Regions from separate parts of the Homo sapiens genome. Here region 1 is linked to region 2. The links come from fine-mapping of genetic effects on gene expression. Tissue or cell type: whole blood. Region 2 holds a variant in brackets; the other region holds the start of a gene. All regions are shown on one strand. Distances are between the middles of the regions.

Region 1 (8,103 bases), 630 kb after region 2:
AGGGTCCTGACCTGGTGAGTGCAGAGTGAGCTGGATTTCAGCCCACCTGCCCTTCACCTGTGTGTGTCTGTCCCCAGCAGCCCTGGTGCCGTGCCCCTAACTCAGGACCTGGGTGTACCCTTCCCTCAACTGCAGCGCTCTTCCCACGCCACTCTATCCTGGTAGTGACTCCTCCTCGTTAGTCAGGTTTCGGGATAAATGTGCAATGGGGAAGCCTTCTCTGGCCACCCCGGACCAGGTCAGGCCCTGCAGTGTCCTCTGCGCTCTCCCTCAGCAGCAACTCTTGAACTTCTGACAGCTCACTCCAGTCTGAGCCTGTGAGGGCAGGAGGTGTGTCTGTCCCATGCCCTCTCTGTACCACAGCTGACCCACCCAAAGGAGGGACCGCACCTTCTAGAGGTCCTTACAGCCCCCATCACAGGCTGGGCCGCTATCCTGGCTCTGCGGAAACACCAAGACTCCAAGAAGCGAAGCCGTTTCCCCAAAACTCACAGGGAGTGGGCACCAGAGCTGTGGGGCCCACAGTGCCCAGGTCTGGGAGCCAGCAAGCCTAGGCTCTCATTCCCTCATCCCGACTGTCACCAACCCACCCCATGACCTTGAGCCTCAGTTTCCCTTCCCTTGAGCCTCAGGGGGAGGATTGGACACAGGGTTTCTGAGGCCCTTCTCACTGCTACTAGAGCAAGAGCAGTGGTCCTGGGCCCACCCTGCCTGCTCAGGGACCCTTGGGCAGCACTCACGGCTCCTCCTGGCACCAGAAGTGGTTGACTGCAAAGGCGATTGCAACGAGGACCAGGAACACGGCCACCGCGATAAGGCCCTGCATCCAGGGCTGAAGGTTCCCCAGGCCTAACAAAGGGAGAGGGGCTGTAGCAGACGGGGCCACAGTGGGGCTGCATGTGCAGGAGAGCGAGGGGCCTCACTCTTCAAGGACCCCACCTATGCTGAAGGCCCTCAGCCAGCTGCCAGGAGCAAGGAGACATTGTGGGGAGGCAGGGGTGGGATACAGCCCATCTGACCCACTTATGCATCTTAAGCTCCACCGAGCTTAGGAAAAGGAGGGAGCTGGAGGAACAACAGAGGCTCAGAGAGAAGGGAGTTGGAAGGAGTGAGAAGCCAAGGAGGGAAGAGCCTCAGTGCTGTATCTAGGCAGCCCAGAGCCTCTTTCCCTCCCGCAGGTGGGTCACATGCAGCCCCAGGGACCAAAGGGCAGCCCCCTGGACAGCCGGCCTAGGCCTTGCAGCTGGGAGTGGCTCCCAGAAGGCTGAGGAGGACCCACAGCTGACAAGACTGGTCTGGGATCTAGAAGATCCTGTTCTGTAGCAAGACGTTTCTCTGATGGTAGGAAGGGTATGAGAGTGGGAGACTCTCAGGGCTGCTCAGCTGGGGAGATCTGGGGTGCCTGGGGTACCCAGAGAGAGGAGTGGACCAGGACATCTTTAGAAGGGCAGAATGGAGGGGTGAACTCTACTCTGGGTCTTGGGGACCAGGAAAGAAGCCTCAAAACCTGAGCTCCTTTTGATTCCCCCAGCTGGGTGCCCAGGGACTAGGGCCAGAGATTAGGTTGAGGCCCCAACCTGCACCCTTCTCTACTTTTTTTATTTTTTAATAGAGACAGGGTCTTACTACGTTGCCCAGGCTGGTCTCAAACTCCTGGGCTCAGGCGAGCCTCTGGCCTTGGCCTCCCAAAGTGCTGGGATTACAGGCATGAGCTACTGCACCAGGTCCCTTCTCTGCTTTTTGACCCTTGACACCAACACAGTCCCTCAAGATTTTCCTGAAGTCCCTGCCTTCAGGCCTCTGCTTCCCCAAAGGACTTTCCTCTTCCCCAGCATCACTGCACTCCATGAGCCTGCAGGAGCTCAGCCTTGTAGAGAAAAGACCCTCAGCGGGGAGAAGTCCCAGGACAAAACACAGGTCAGCAGGGGGCTTCAGAGGGGTCCTGCCTCCAGGCCAGAATATACCTGCATCCCTATATTTTGAGGGACCCAAGCTGGACATGAGAAAACCTTCCTCTGGCTCACTCCTGCTCAAATGTCCTCCTTTGAGTCTACCAAAAGCTCTCCTGCTGCAGTGGAGGCCTGACCTCTTCTCCGAGCCTGGCAAATATTGGGAAGGAGGAAGGAGGCTAGGAACTCTCTGGCCTGTAGTGAGGTCAGACCTCACTTATCTCCAGGGGAAGCAGAAGACACACAGTGTGATTACCCTCAGTTCCACACCTGCCAAAAAGCAGTATTTGGGAGTCATTGTTTCCCTAGGGGTTCAGACTGCTCCCTCAGGTCAGTGGTTGCTCAAGCATGGGGAGTTAGGGCTCAACCCTTGGAGGCCCCTCCCTGTTTCCTCCTAGACCCTGCAGCCAATTCTCTCCAGTCACCCCAGGGACCACAGTCCCTGCTCCTCCTCCCATGCACATACAGCAAGGGGCAGTGTCTGGGGCAGGAGAAAGGTGGTCTGAACCCTGTCCTTTCTTGCCGTGCTCTGTGACTCAACCTCTCTGGTCTGCAGTTCCCCAGAGGGCTTCCAAGACCTGGGAGACAGAGTTGAAGCAGACACACATAAGAGCTCGGGGTGGGGGTGGGAGGGGAGCTCTGAAAGCATCTTTGCCAGTCCCCTCTGGACCAAGTCCCACCTGCAGAGTCCCCAGACTTTGGCTGCAGATGCAGCCTGACAGTGTAGAATGAAAGCCAGACCTTGGGTTAGTTACTTCACCAGGTGCAAAGCCCTTCTTCACCTCTGACCTGGCAGCAGCCCTGGGAGGTGGGCAGGGTGGGGTTTATTGTTCTCATTTTATAGGTGAGAAAACTGAGTCTCAGGAAGGGGCAGTGATTTGCTCAAGGTCACACATCCATTCAGGCAGAGCAGGACGAAGAGGTCAGATATTTGGGGGAGTCACACTGGGCACTGTTCTCTATCCAAGCCCAAGAGGCCGAGACAAAGCCCAAGTCTTTGAGGGGTGGCTTGGGCCCCACTCTCACCCTACTTGTACCCCCGGGTCCCCTGTACTCAGGACCCAGCCATCCCTTGGGCAATGCCTGCTCTTGGGGCTTGGGCCTCAAATCCTGTTCCTCCCTGAGATCCTAGAACCAACTGCTGCCAGTTTTCACTCGTTGAAAACAAGTGACAGGCAGAGACTTGGTTCAGAGGTCTCTGCCTTGGGACATTCTTTCAGCTAGCGCAGTCCCTGCTCCCCCTCCAAACTGTAAGTATCAAGGCCCTGGGGAGGGGAGCCAGAACACCACCTGTCCACCCCTGGGTCTCCCGTGCCCAGCCCTCTCCTCCTGAGCTACCTTGCTGACAGCTGGCAGGTGGCACTGCCGTGAGCAGGCCCAGAATGAGGAGGCTGAGGGCCGACATGGCTGCAGCAGCTCCTAGCCTTGCTTCTGGCCGCCGGTGTCTGGGCTCCTGGAGCTGCTGTGGAGTCTATTGGTGTCCGCCTGAAATCAACCTGGGCTCAGTCTGGCCCTGGAGGAGAGGAGCTAGGAAGGAGGAAGGCGAGGGAGGGAGGAGACACGAAGACGGGCGTCGGAGAGAACGTGCCCTCCCTCCCATGGTAATGAGCTGCCAGACCTGGCCTCCCCTGGCTGGTGCCCAGCTCACTTGGGCTGGCATTCGAGGTCATCTTCCAGGGGCCAGCTAAGGAGGTGGGTATGAGGAACAAGCAGATGTGGGAGAGTCCCAGCCTCACCTCCATGCCCTGAGCTCCCTTTTCCTGGCAGTGGGGCTGGATTCTAGGGAAAGGGGTGACACACAGTCGCTCCTGCCTTGACTGAGCCCAGTGGGCGGGGCTTCTTGGAAGGCTGACAGTGGGATTAAGAAATGTCCTGGCTGGCTCAGGAGCCTGGGGAAAACCCCAGAAGCCCAGAGAAGGCTCAAAGCTGCCAGACTCCGCCGAGAGCCTGGCCTATTTCCTGTTCTCCCCACCACCTGCCCCTGCCCCGCCAAGCTAAACTCTGGGACTCTAATGCTGGGACACACTACGGCTTCAGTGCCTTCCACGCCCTGGCCCAGCCCAGTAGCTTCCTAAATCCACCCCCTTCTGCAAAGATCTCAATAGAGGGCCTGAAGGTCCCAGTCCCCAGCTTTCACAGCCCATGCCCAGGCCCTGACCCAGCACAGCTAACCTAGTCCCAGTTCGGTTCTTCCTCTTGGCCCCAGATGTGGTCCCTGGAAACCGGGCAGGGCCTCAAAACAAGATACAGCCTTGGTCAGAGGCTTCAACACCCAACTTCAGATCCATCTCCACCCATGGCAGAGGAGAAAATGGGCAAACACAGCCTGCTGTGGGGGACAAAGGACGGACACCCCAGATGGCAAGGTGCGATCTGGGGCCCTGAAGCCCTGGGCCCGTCACCCTCATAGCCAAAAGCAGCATTGAGGAAGGCACACCTAGCCCCTGGAACAGGGAGGCCCTGGAGCCAGAGCCCTCGGAAGAGGCAAAAGCCTCCCCAGGATCACGTGGTGTCCACCTGGCCCTCCAGCTCAGGGAATGAGAATGGCCAGAGTTCCTGTGCAAGCCCCTGACCAAGGGTCATGCTGGTCTCCTTGCCCCACCCCCCACCCCAGAAGTATGGGAAGCTGAGATGCTGACTCCCTAGAAAGGAGCGGGCCAACTGGAACAAAGTCTCATCAGAGATGGAAGGTCCCCAGGAGCCAGCACCTGAGCTGAAGGCACCTCCACAGCCTCTCTTCCCTGAAGCCACCAAACTCCTATTCATCAGGCCTCCTGGGCAACCCTTCCTATGGCAGGTTGATTCTGCCTTCCTGCTCCAGCGGGAGCACTCAGACATCATGCCTCAGGCCTGCTTCCTGTGTGTGTGTGTGTGTGTGTGTGTGTGTGTGTGTGTGTGTGTGTGTGTGGTGTGTGTGGGTGTGTGTGTGTGTGTTCACATGCGTGTGCAGTCGGGCCCATTGCCATCCAAAGATGGAGTGTCTCAAGGTGATCTGGGAGAACTTTGCTTGGAGTTGAGTGATGCCTCCCAAACATGTATATCCTGGCCTCCCTCCCACACCCAACTTGGTGTCCTCAGAATCTTCTAACACAGACTGGAGTAAGCACTGTGCATGTTAATGAACAGCCAGAGAATCACTGATTGGAATGTAAGGAATGGGGCTGAATTTAACAAACATCTACTGGTGCCTTCTCCAAGAATTTTAGGGAGGAGAGTCACATGGTTAGTTTTGCGTTTGGGAAAACACCTCTCCATGCAGTGTGGAGAGTGAAAGGGGCATGCAAAGGCTGGAGAAGAGAAATCCAGGGATCTGCTACAGTGGCCACAACACCAGTGCCTGGACCTGGGCAGGAAGTGCCCATGGGAACAGATCTGAGCCCTGTTGAGGAGGTAGAGAAGCCGGGGTGTGGCTGCTGGAACACAGTGCCAAGCTGGGAGAATGGGTACAGGCAGGAGGCAGGGCTTCAGGTGACTCCCAGGTTTCTGGCGTAGGCAGCTGGGTAGATGCTAGTGCCTCAGTAGGGGCCAGAGCAAGTTTGGGGGGTTGGAGGATTAATGAGCTATAGATTTTGAGGTATTATGCTTGCAGTGCCTGTGGACTTTCCAGAGGGAGACATCTGGAAGGCTGCAAAATCCCTGCATCTGGAGTGGAACATCTGGGAGCCGTCTGCAGCACAGGGATGGTAACTGAGGCCTGGGAGCTCATGGTCTCCCCAGTGTGTGTAGCGGGGGTAGGGGTGTTGAGGGGAGAGCACAGAAAGAAGGAGACACGCCCCCAACACACAAAGGTCTTTCAAAGGAAGAAGGGGCAGGAGGAAACAGGAGGAAGCAACCCCAGGAAAGTGGGGTATCCCAGGAGCCAAGCAAGGACAGACTTAAGGAGGGTGGGGGGGTCACAGCTGTGCCACCCCCTCCAACCAGTGCCCTCAGCACTCAAGTCCCAGGTTCTGCCTTCCCCACCCCAGTATCCTCCACTTCCCTGAAAAACCCAGGGAAAGGAAAGGATCCCCTGGGCTATGCTTTGGGAGTGGTGGGGGAAGGGGATGAACAGGAAGGACACCAGGTGATCAACAGGAGGAAAACATACCTCCTGGGTCAAAGTCCCAAGCTTTAGAGCAAAACAAGTTGTTCCAGAAAAGAGGGAGCATGGGTGGACACTTGGCTTTGAGGCTGGTCCCTCCTCCCTGGAGGTCTTCACACGGGTGGAGGGTCATCTCCCCAGCTGTATGGACACAGCCCTGATCCCCATGGTAACAAGGTGGGCCCCCCTACTGGTCTGGCTGGGGCCCAGGGTCTGGACTAAGGTCTCAGCAGCCCCACAGGGCTGCACCGTGTGTCCTGAGCAGCTGTTCCATCGACGTTCAGTTCCTCCTTCCTGTTCCAGCCCAGCTGTCACGCAAAACCATCAGGCCCCTTAGACAAGCCCTCCATCCAGCCAGACCTTATGCGATTGCCCTTCAGAAAAGCCAAAGTGGGCCTGGACTGTTTCCAGCAGTCTCCTTCCTCCCAACCCCATCTTGTCAGCCATTCCACTCACTGCCAGCAGGTGGCAGTGTCTAGCTCCAATACCAGACTGGGCGTGCAGGGAGCCAGTTTGCTGCTGAAGATTCTGCAACTTCCCCTCCCTCCAGCCCCCACTTTTGCCCTCCTCCAGGGGTGGTCTGAAGAAAGGGACGGTGGACATTGACATGTAAATAGTCTGGGAACAGCATACAGGGAGTGCTCAGGGCTCTGACATAGGGCAGCGTGGTGGACTACATTGCTAAGGAAGGCATCCTGGAGGAGGTAATGCAGGCAAAGTTAGCCAGAGTGTTGTACTCGGCAGACAGTCTGGGGAGAGGAATCCAGGCAAAGAGCTTAGCCTGAGAAAAAGTACAGAGAACATTCAAGAAGGGTGTTTAGAACACAAATATAAAAGCTTTCTTTTTTTCCCTCTCAGTGTCTCTCTCTGTCACCCAGGCTGGAGTGCAGTGGTTCAATCTTGGCTCACTGCAACCTCCGCCTCCTGGGTTCAAGCGATTCTCTTGCCTCAGCCTCCTGAGTAGCTGGGATCACAGGCGCCCACCACCACACCAAGCTAATTTTTGTATTTTCAGTAGAGACGAGGTTTCACTATGTTGGCCAGGGTGGCCTCAAACTCCTGACCTGAAGTGATCAGCCCGCCTCGGCCTCCCAAAGTGCTGGGATAACAGGCGTGAGCCACCGCGCCCAGCTCTTTACTAATTCTTATAATACTTCATCTTGTTAATATCATTGCTGTAAGCCAGAGAGCTCCTGGAGACCTTGTTTTATTCTTTCAAACGTATCTTGCTTAAACCCTTTTATGGCATTCATCAGCCCTTAAAATAATATGCAAACTTCTTTGCATGGGTTTGAGGGCACAGGCAATCTTCCTTACCCACCACTCCAGCTTGGTCTGGCCCCGGAGCCTCCTGTCACTTCCTAACAAAAGCCAAGCTCTTTCCCACATCAGAGACTTCTCTCCACTTGCTCTTTTCTCTGCCTGGAACACTCTTCCACTCCTATTTGCCCAGCAAACTGATCTTCCTTTACATCCCTTTCTTCAAGAATACTTCTTTACTTCCCTTCTCTCCCATCTGAAGTCACTCCCTTCTATGAGTCTCCTTTGCTCATCTCCTCACAGCCATGATCACAAGTTGCAATTACACACTGATTTGTATGTTTACTCATTTAATAACTGTCTCCATGGAGGGAAGGTATCATGTCTATCTCTCCCTCAGCAGCCAGTACTGAGCACAGTGCCTGAGTACACACTCGACACACATTTTATGAAATTAAATGTCAGTATATGCAGTGCCTACCACTGGCCTAACAAAGAGCAGAAGCTCAGAGAAAGGTTGTTCAATGAATAAAACATTTTAGCTGTAGTTGAGTCCTTGTCTCTCTCCACTCTCTATCTGTGGGGCAAGGACTGTGTCTGATTCATCTCTGTATGTGAAGGAGAAGACAAGGCAACCATTCCTCTGACAGTTAGAGCTGTTCAGCCTGATATGAGGGTGTCCTGGAGGGTGAGCTCTCCTTCCCTAGACATGTAAGAGCAGAGGCCATGGACCAGGTCACCCAATGAGGTGTCTGCAAAAGGGGTTTGTCTTAGTCTCTTTGTACCACTTTAATAAAAATACCCTAGACTGGG
Region 2 (8,103 bases):
TTGTCCCTCTGGCATGTGGCAGGTGCTCACTTATGGGTCTGGGAATGAGCCAGTTAGACACTCAAACTGGGTCCCCATCTGCAACATAGGATGGCAATGCTTGCCTCCTTCCACTGGTAGGGTCACTGAGGCTGGCCAGAGCCTGGCACACCAAGGAGACCAGAAAGTCATGGGAGCATCTGGCAGACCCCTTGGAGGGCAGAGGTCAGGTATTGTGAGTAGCCAAGGAGGATTTTTAAAAATGTTTTCTAGTGAAGACATGAATTCTAAGCTTAGGGAAAAAATACGATCATTTGCCTTTCAGGCCAGCTGTACCCAGACTCCCAGACCATGAGGAGAACCTATGTGCCCCAACTCGGCCACACAACAATCAGCGCAGCACGGCCTTGCTCACTTCTGGGTGTCCTCAGCTAATGATGCTTCTATATAAGAGGAGGATGCTACAGACTTCAAATGACAATAGGATGCTTGCGGGGCTGGGTGCATGTACCAAATCCCCAGAGGACTCTGTTGGGGCTTAGTCTGTGGCCAAGTTTACAGCCAACTCTATGGCCTATAAGGGGCTCAGTCTGGGGTAACAGGAGGAGTCGATTCACTCTACACACTCAGGGATAGACGCTGTCCTCTTCAGCTGCACCAGCCACAAGGCTGGTGCTCAGCACTTGCTGGCATGACAGCTTCCTTGTGGCCATGCCACAGGCCTGAAGTGGTGGAAAACACCCCTCCCTGGAGTCACTCACCCCCTGCACCCATGGGTGCTGCAGAACTTGGGCGGCGCTAAGTCTCTGCTTTGCATCTCGCACCAGGAGCTTGGAGATGAGGTCTTTGGCTTCACTGGAGATGTGTGCCCAGTCCTTGTCAGGAAACTCATACTTGCCTTCCTGGATGCTTTCAAACAGCTTGTTCTAGGTACAAAAGATTCCTCCTGAGGCCACACTGCCAGGGATGGGCAGGATGTGCCTGTCATTGTTTTGATCAACCGGCTTCAATTGATCTCAGCTGTAGCTGCAGCTCATGGCTTGGGGATGCCACAGACTGGGGCCTCTTCCCAGACTCACCCCGCACTGTCCCCTAGATGATCAAACTATATAGAATGCCCTTGGCAGGCCAGGATGGCTATGCCCTTGGTGGGCTGGATGGGTGATGAGTGGAGATCACCCATAGAACAAAGCCCAAATTCCTTGGCTCTTCCTAGAGGACTCTCTGTGAACCTCTCAGGCCTCATCTCCCACTACCACCGACCTACTACTCCACTCTTCCTTCCTAGACACTCCAGCTATTTCATGTGCCCACATCTATGCCCGTGCTGTTCCTTCTACTTGTGATTCTTGTCCCTCTTCCGCAGGGCAGGATGCACCCTTTAAGAGTCAGTTCAGGGCTGGGCGCGGTGGCTCACGCCTGTAATCCCAGCACTTTGGGAGGCCGAGGCGGGAGGATCACAAGGTCAGGAGATTGAGACCATCCTGGCTAACACGATGAAACCCCGTCTCTACTGAAAATATAAAAAATTAGCCAGACGTGGTGGCCGGCGCCTGTAGTCCCAGCTACTTGGGAGGCCTAAGGCAGGAGAATCGCTTGAACCCAGGAGGCAGAGGTTGCAGTGAGTCGAGATCGTGCCATTGCACTCCAGCCTGGGCGACAGAGAGAGACTCCATCTCAAAAAAAAAAAAAAAAAAAAAAAAAGAGTCAGTTCAGGCATGATCTTCTAACAATCCTGCCCTGAACTCCCAGCTGGGCGGAGTGTCTGATTATCTCTATTTTACCTTGTGGCCACCGTGACAGGAGCGGGAGAGGGCACTATGAGCCCCCATCCCGATCAGGAACGCTCTCCCAGCCCAGTCCTGCTTGGCATCCCCCAACCACACTGACCCCTAGCAGGGTCTACGCAGTGCTCCCTGGGGCCGCACTCACCTGGCACACCCTGCAGACCTCGCCCCGGTCCCAGCCACAGTCGGCCCCGCAGTGACCCACGAAGGGTGGGTAGCCACTCAGCATGATGTAGAGGACCACGCCCAGGCTCCACAGGTCACAGCGCTTGTCGTAGAATGTGGCCTGGTCCGTGAAGACCTCCACTACCTCAGGGGCCATGTATTCTGCAGAGCCACACTGTGGGGGCCAGGGTTGGGGGAGGGGGAGATGGCAGAGAACAGAGAGGCTTAGTTACAGCAGAGGGGATGGCAGAGAGCAGACTGTGATGGGACTGGAGCAGGAGGCTGGAAGGATGAGATACAGATCAGGAAGGCCAGCCAGTGAGCCGCCTGATGCCACCAAGGCATCTGCAGACTGAGCTCCATCATTTTCCATCATCCAGAGGAGCAGTTCAGGTCACCTTATCCTTCCAGTTCCTCCTCCAGTAGGCAAAGACCCTTGGCCAAGAAGTTCCAGGAATCTCCCCCTGCTTCAGCTTCCTATAAACAGATATTTCATGTACAGGTACTTAAATGCACCAAGAATGTGGCTCTGGAAGGAGATCCAGTTCCACACAGCAAGATTTCTTAAAGTGAATCCTGTCGTGCTCCCCTGCTAGCTCAGAGCAGGAAGTGTAACAATTAAGAGACCGTCAAAGCTACAAAGCTCTTAGAACAAATCCAACCTTCCCACCCCTCCCATTTATAGATGGCAAGGGCAAGGCCAAGAACGGGACAGGGATCTGTTTGAGCACATCAATGGCAGCCCTAGGACCAGAATCCAATATTCCTTTCTCTCACCCTTGTGTAGAAAGCGGCTGATAGGAATAAAACACGTTCTTTTTGCTCCACTCTTCATTATTTCAGGCTCACCAAGAAACAACCACCTCCCGCCTCCACACACCCTGCAAAACTAATTTGACTGAAAGATGGTAAGTGTTCTCAAGAGAGGATATTTTCTTTGTTATTGTCAATTAGAATTAATGACTTTGAAAACAAGGTAGTCCAGTGTGTTAGAAGCTAAGAAAGAAACATTCCTGATAATGTTGTTTAGAATAAGATACAACACAGGCATATTAAATATGCCCTTAAAGGGCATGTCTTAAAAGGGTTATTAGGGGCCAGGCGTGGTGGCTCACGCCTGTAATCCCAGCACTTTGGGAGGCCGAGGCGGGTGGTTCACAAGGTCAGGAGATCGAGACCATCCTGGCTAACATGGTGAAACCCCGTCTCTACTAAAAATACAAAAAATTAGCCAGGCGTGGTGGCGGGCGCCTGTAGTCCCAGCTACTCGGGAGGCTGAGGCAGGAGGATGGCATGAACCCAGGAGGCAGAGCTTGCAGTGAGCCGAGATCACGCCACTGCATTCCAGCCTGGGCAACAGAGCAAGACTCTGTCTCAAAAAAAAAAAAAAAAAAAAAGGGTTATTAGGAAAATTTACTTGTGAAGCATACAAATCTCAAAAGAATCATAATTATACTCTATTAGTTATACAAGAGATGTTTTAGGAAGAAGTAGCTCCAAGCAGCACCATCTGGTCATGAAATGTGAAATCAGAGAAGCAAACAGGCTAACTTGGCCAAGCGATCCCATGTGCATATAGCCTGAGACCTCACAGTTCCCACCACAGAGAGACTATCCTGTCCAGTCAGGGAGAACAGCTCTCCATCCCCCATTACAAGGGGGCTGCGCTGTGCCTTCAGCAGTGGGAATAGGACTTACAGAACTACCCAAATGCTCATATGCAAAAGGGCTGGCCTGGGAGTAGGGTCCATTTTCACCTGGGTCAGGAGTCAGGGCTCAGCCTGTGTTTTTTTTATTGTTTTTTTTTTTTTTTTTTTTTTTTTTTGAGACGGAGTTTTGCTCTTGTTGCCCAGGCTGGAGTGCAATGGTGCTATCTCGGCTCACCGCAACCTCCACCCCTCGGGTTCAAGCGATTCTCCTGCCTCAGCCTCCCAAGTAGCTGGGATTACAGGTG[C/T]GCGCCACCATGCCTGGCTAATTTTGTATTTTCAGTACAATGGGGTTTCTCCATGTTGGTCAGGCTGGTCTCAAACTCCTGACCTCAGGTGATCTGCCTGCCTCAACCTCCTAAAGTGCTAGGATTACAGGCATGAGCCATTGCAAACGGCCAGCCTGTGCTTATAGATATAATTTGTCTCTTCATCAGCAGAGAGGACCCAACCCAACTAACAGTCCAAGTGTCAGTTTCGTTAGCAACTAAGGGGTCAGGGGAGGCTTGAGAGCCACGAACACAGAGCAGCAAGCAAAATGATCACTCAGGCAGCAGGAAGATAGGTCCACTTGGTTTTCCATCCTTAACCCTCTGTTCTGGACCTCCCAGCTCTGGATCAGGGAAACACTCCAAATACTTAGGAGCCCAGAGGAAGCATACGTACTGGGGTGGTCAGCTCTGGTGTGGTTATGGGGGTACAGGAGTTGTTCAGTTTCATCCCACTGCCCAAGTCAAAGTCACAGATTTTCACTGGAGACACCTGAAAAGGAAAACAGAAGACAGGGTCACAGATATAAGAAACTACGGGGCAAGAGGAGCCAGGCATGGCTGTACGGGTGCATGGCTCCGTGGCTGTCACACCGCAGCTGGTTTTGTCAGGTCATGTTTGCTCTCCGGAGGTTAACAAGAAGTCCCCTGAGGATTTCTTCCCAAGTGTCTTATTCCCTGAGCTCTCTTATTTCCCATCTAAGGGAAAAATGGGTGGACTATTTGGTGTCAGATTATTGTGAACTCAGACTAAAGGAAGTATGGAACTCTTGCTGGCAAATGATGGTACAGGTTGCAGCACAGCAGCTAGGGAAGTTACTGTGTACTCCTGAGAGACAGACTTCTTGCAGCCCATTCAGTGGAGTGTAAAGGAGCTTGCAGTAAAACCTCTGACCGCCTCAGGTGGCTTAGGGTGACCAACTTGTCTTGGGTGGCTTGCTTGGGACTTGATCAGTTTAAACACGGAAACTCCTGCGTTCCAGGAAACCCCTCAAGCCTGGGAAAACTGGGATGGTTGGTCACCGTAGGTGGCATCAACACAGTAACCAAGTCCACCAGAACTGGATGCTGTGCCTGAGACCACAGACAGGTGCCTCATCTCTGGAGCCAACCAGGAAGGCAGTTTGGGTGCACACATGAGAATGGATGAGAATGGCCTACATGGCATGTAAGCAGCACAGCGAGTGAACTAAATGCTGGTTCTCTGAGACCCATGTCCTTGCCGGGAAGCCTGGGCAAGTCCCTCGACTTCTTTCTCCCCTTCCTTCCTCCCTCCCCTTTTCTCTATTTTTTCTTCTTTTCTTTTTCCTTTAGCCTCTTATTAGTGGTAAAATATAAAGCATAAAATATGAGATTTTAGCCATTTTTAAGTAGACAGTTTAGTGGTATTAATTAAGTACATTCACAGGGTTGTGCAACCATCACCACGATCTGTTTCTAAAACTTTTCCATCACTCCAAACAGAAACTCTATACGCATTAAGCAATAACTCCCATTCTTTCTTCCCCTAGCCCTGGGTAACTTCCAATCTGACTTTATTAATTAAGACTTTCTGTCTTTATTAATTTGCCCATTCCAGATATTTCATATAAGTAGATTTACACAATATTTGTCCTGTTATGTTTGGCTTATTTCACTTAGCATAATGTTTTCAAGGTTCATTCATGTTGCAGCATGTATCAAAACCTCATTCCATTTTATGGCTGACTAGTATTCCATTGAATGTATGTACCACATTTTGTTTATCTGTTCAGCTGCTGATGACCACTTGAGTTGTCTCTACCTTTTTGGCTGTTGTGAACAATGCTGTAATGAATACTGCTATACAAGTATCTGTTTTCAATTGTTTTGGGTAATACCTAGGAGTGGAATTGCTGGGTCATATGGTAATTCTGTGTTTAGCCTTTGAGGAACCGCCAAACTTTTCCACAGAAGCTGCACCATTATATAATCTCACCAGCAATGTATGAGGGTTACGATTTCTCCATAACCGTAACAACACTTACTATTTTCCATTTTTTAAATTACAGCCTACCTAGTAGTATGTGGTGGTATCTCATTGTGGTTTTGACTTGCATTTCCCTAATGACTAAGGATGTTGAGCATCTTTTCATGTACTTGTTGGACATTTGTGTACCTTATTTGGAGAAATGTCTGTTCAAGTCCCGTGTCCATTTTTAAATTGGTTTGTCTTTTTGTTGTAGAGTTTTAGGAATCCTTTATATATTTTGGATATTAAACCTTGACCAGATATATGATCTGCAAATATTTTCTCACATTCTGTAGATTGTCTTTTCACTTTCTTGATAGATAATGTCCTTTGAAACTTAACCTCTCTTTTTCTTAAGAGACAGGGGTCTCACTATATCACCCAGGCTGGCCTCAAACTCCAGGCTCAAGCAATTCTCCTACCTCAGCCTCCTGAGTAGCTGGGACTACAGGCATGCAACCGCTGTGACCAGCTAATTTTTAAATTTTTTGTGGAGATGGGGTCTCGCTTTGTTGCCCAGGCTGTTCTTAAGCTCCTGGCCTCAAGGGATCCTCCTGCCTCAGCCTCCCGAAGTGTTGGGATTATAGGCGTGAGCCACTGCCTGGTCCCAATTATTCCTCTCTTTCGCCTTGCCTTTCCTCACGTTCTTGTTATGAGACAGAATCTCTGCTGCCCAGGCTGGAGTGCAGTGGTGCAATCATGGCTCACTGGCTATACATGTTTCCTAACTTGAGTTTCAGTTTCCTCGTCCATAAAATGAAGGTAATAATAGTATCTACCTCATGATATTTCATAAACACTAAATAAATATAAGTGCCTGGCACAATGTAAGCACTCAAGAAGTGTTCACTGTAATTATTAGTAGTAATCATCATAATAATGATAAATTATAAAGGTCTACGACAGAATCAGTGACAGAAGTCACAAGATCTTATTTGAGCGAATCCATTATTATTCCCCATAAAAGAGTTGTGAGTAGCAGACTGACTCATTCATTCAAGGCCACCCCTTATTTATGAGCCGCGGCTTCATCCAGACCACAATATATATGCTCTTGAATACACACATGTATATACACGCAGAGCTGTGAACGTGGGCCCCAACACCACCAGTGCCTAAATCTCTCCTAATAAACACAGAATTTGTCAAATTCATACACTTCCGTTTACTTAAAGAGATCTGCTTCACATAAGATTAAGTTGTTTGGCTGGGCATGGTGGCTCACGTTTGCAATCCCAGTACTTTGGAAAGCCAAGGCAGGTGGACTGCTTGAGCTCAGGAGTTCGAGACCAGCCTGGCTAACATGGTGAAACCCCTGTCTCTACTAAAAATACAAAAATTAGCCAGGTGTGGTGGCACATGCCTGTTGTCTCAGCTACTTGGGGGGCTGAGGTGGGAGAACCACTTGAGCCTGGGAAGTCGAGGCTGCAGTGAGCTGTGATCATGCCACTGCATTCCAGCTTGGGTGGCAAAGTGAGACCCCGTCTCAAAAAAAAAAAAAAAGTATTTACGACTTCCATCAACTGATATAAAGATAGATGCATTGGACTAGAAAATATTAATTTTGTGCAGGTCTCATATATTTTCCAAACTCTCAGGCTTACATCAATCACACTGATGATCAAGAGCGAAGAAAGGACGAGGATGGGCAGAAACATCACACAGTAAGTGTAACATTCTCACATGTCCAAGACGATCAGTTCAAGTTGGTGTCTGAGGCCAACGGAACTGCTAACAATCCATCCTGAAAGCAAGGGTGGCTTCCTCGGTAAGTATAAACTATAACATTCCAAATCAGGCCCAAAGTACCTTTTCTGGAGATTCACACAATATATTTTCTGGTTTCAGATCACGATGAGCAATGCCTGACATGACAAAGAGCAAAAAAATGGTTAACATATGCAGATAATTATCAAACATTCCACACACAATTAATTTTTTCCAAATGCTGTAGTTCGCAGATTAATTCCCAATTATGGTACATTAAAAAATCAACGAGCTGCAGGAGGCAGAAGTAACCAGCGACACAAACCAAAAGCACAGTTGATTCTGCGGGTTCTTTTGAAGAGGAGGCTTTAGAAGTCTGGCAGGGATAAGAAGGGCTAAATGAATCCCAGCCAGCCTACCCCTCAGTACCACAGTGACCACCAAGAAGAAGGCCTAATGCAGAGCAGAGCAGAGAGCTCTGCAAACGGCAATGCTTGGAA

Evidence for each region. PIP is the estimated chance that this variant, and not a neighbour inherited with it, causes the effect.
Region 1: it holds the start of PDZK1IP1, and the variant in region 2 is fine-mapped to the expression of PDZK1IP1 in whole blood (TOPMed, PIP 0.96).

What each region holds. Positions count from the first base shown.
Region 1 is chr1:47,186,579-47,194,681 of GRCh38, forward strand. It overlaps PDZK1IP1 (PDZK1 interacting protein 1), which reads right to left and starts at 3,458. Exons shown (of 4, transcript NM_005764.4): 1 at 3,288-3,458; 2 at 741-849. The coding sequence starts at 3,354. RefSeq lists a silencer at 3,739-4,033 and an enhancer at 4,863-5,812.
Region 2 is chr1:46,560,738-46,568,840 of GRCh38, forward strand. MKNK1 (MAPK interacting serine/threonine kinase 1) reads right to left here. Exons shown (of 13, transcript NM_001135553.4): 8 at 7,706-7,761; 9 at 4,304-4,399; 10 at 1,912-2,106; 11 at 741-905. It overlaps MKNK1-AS1 (MKNK1 antisense RNA 1), which reads left to right. Exons shown (of 8, transcript NR_038403.1): 6 at 2,775-2,839; 7 at 7,469-7,560; 8 at 7,745-8,103. Among named protein-coding and RNA genes, the nearest start is that of KNCN, 13 kb to the left of the region's middle. The variant C/T (reference allele first, on the strand shown) is at 3,886.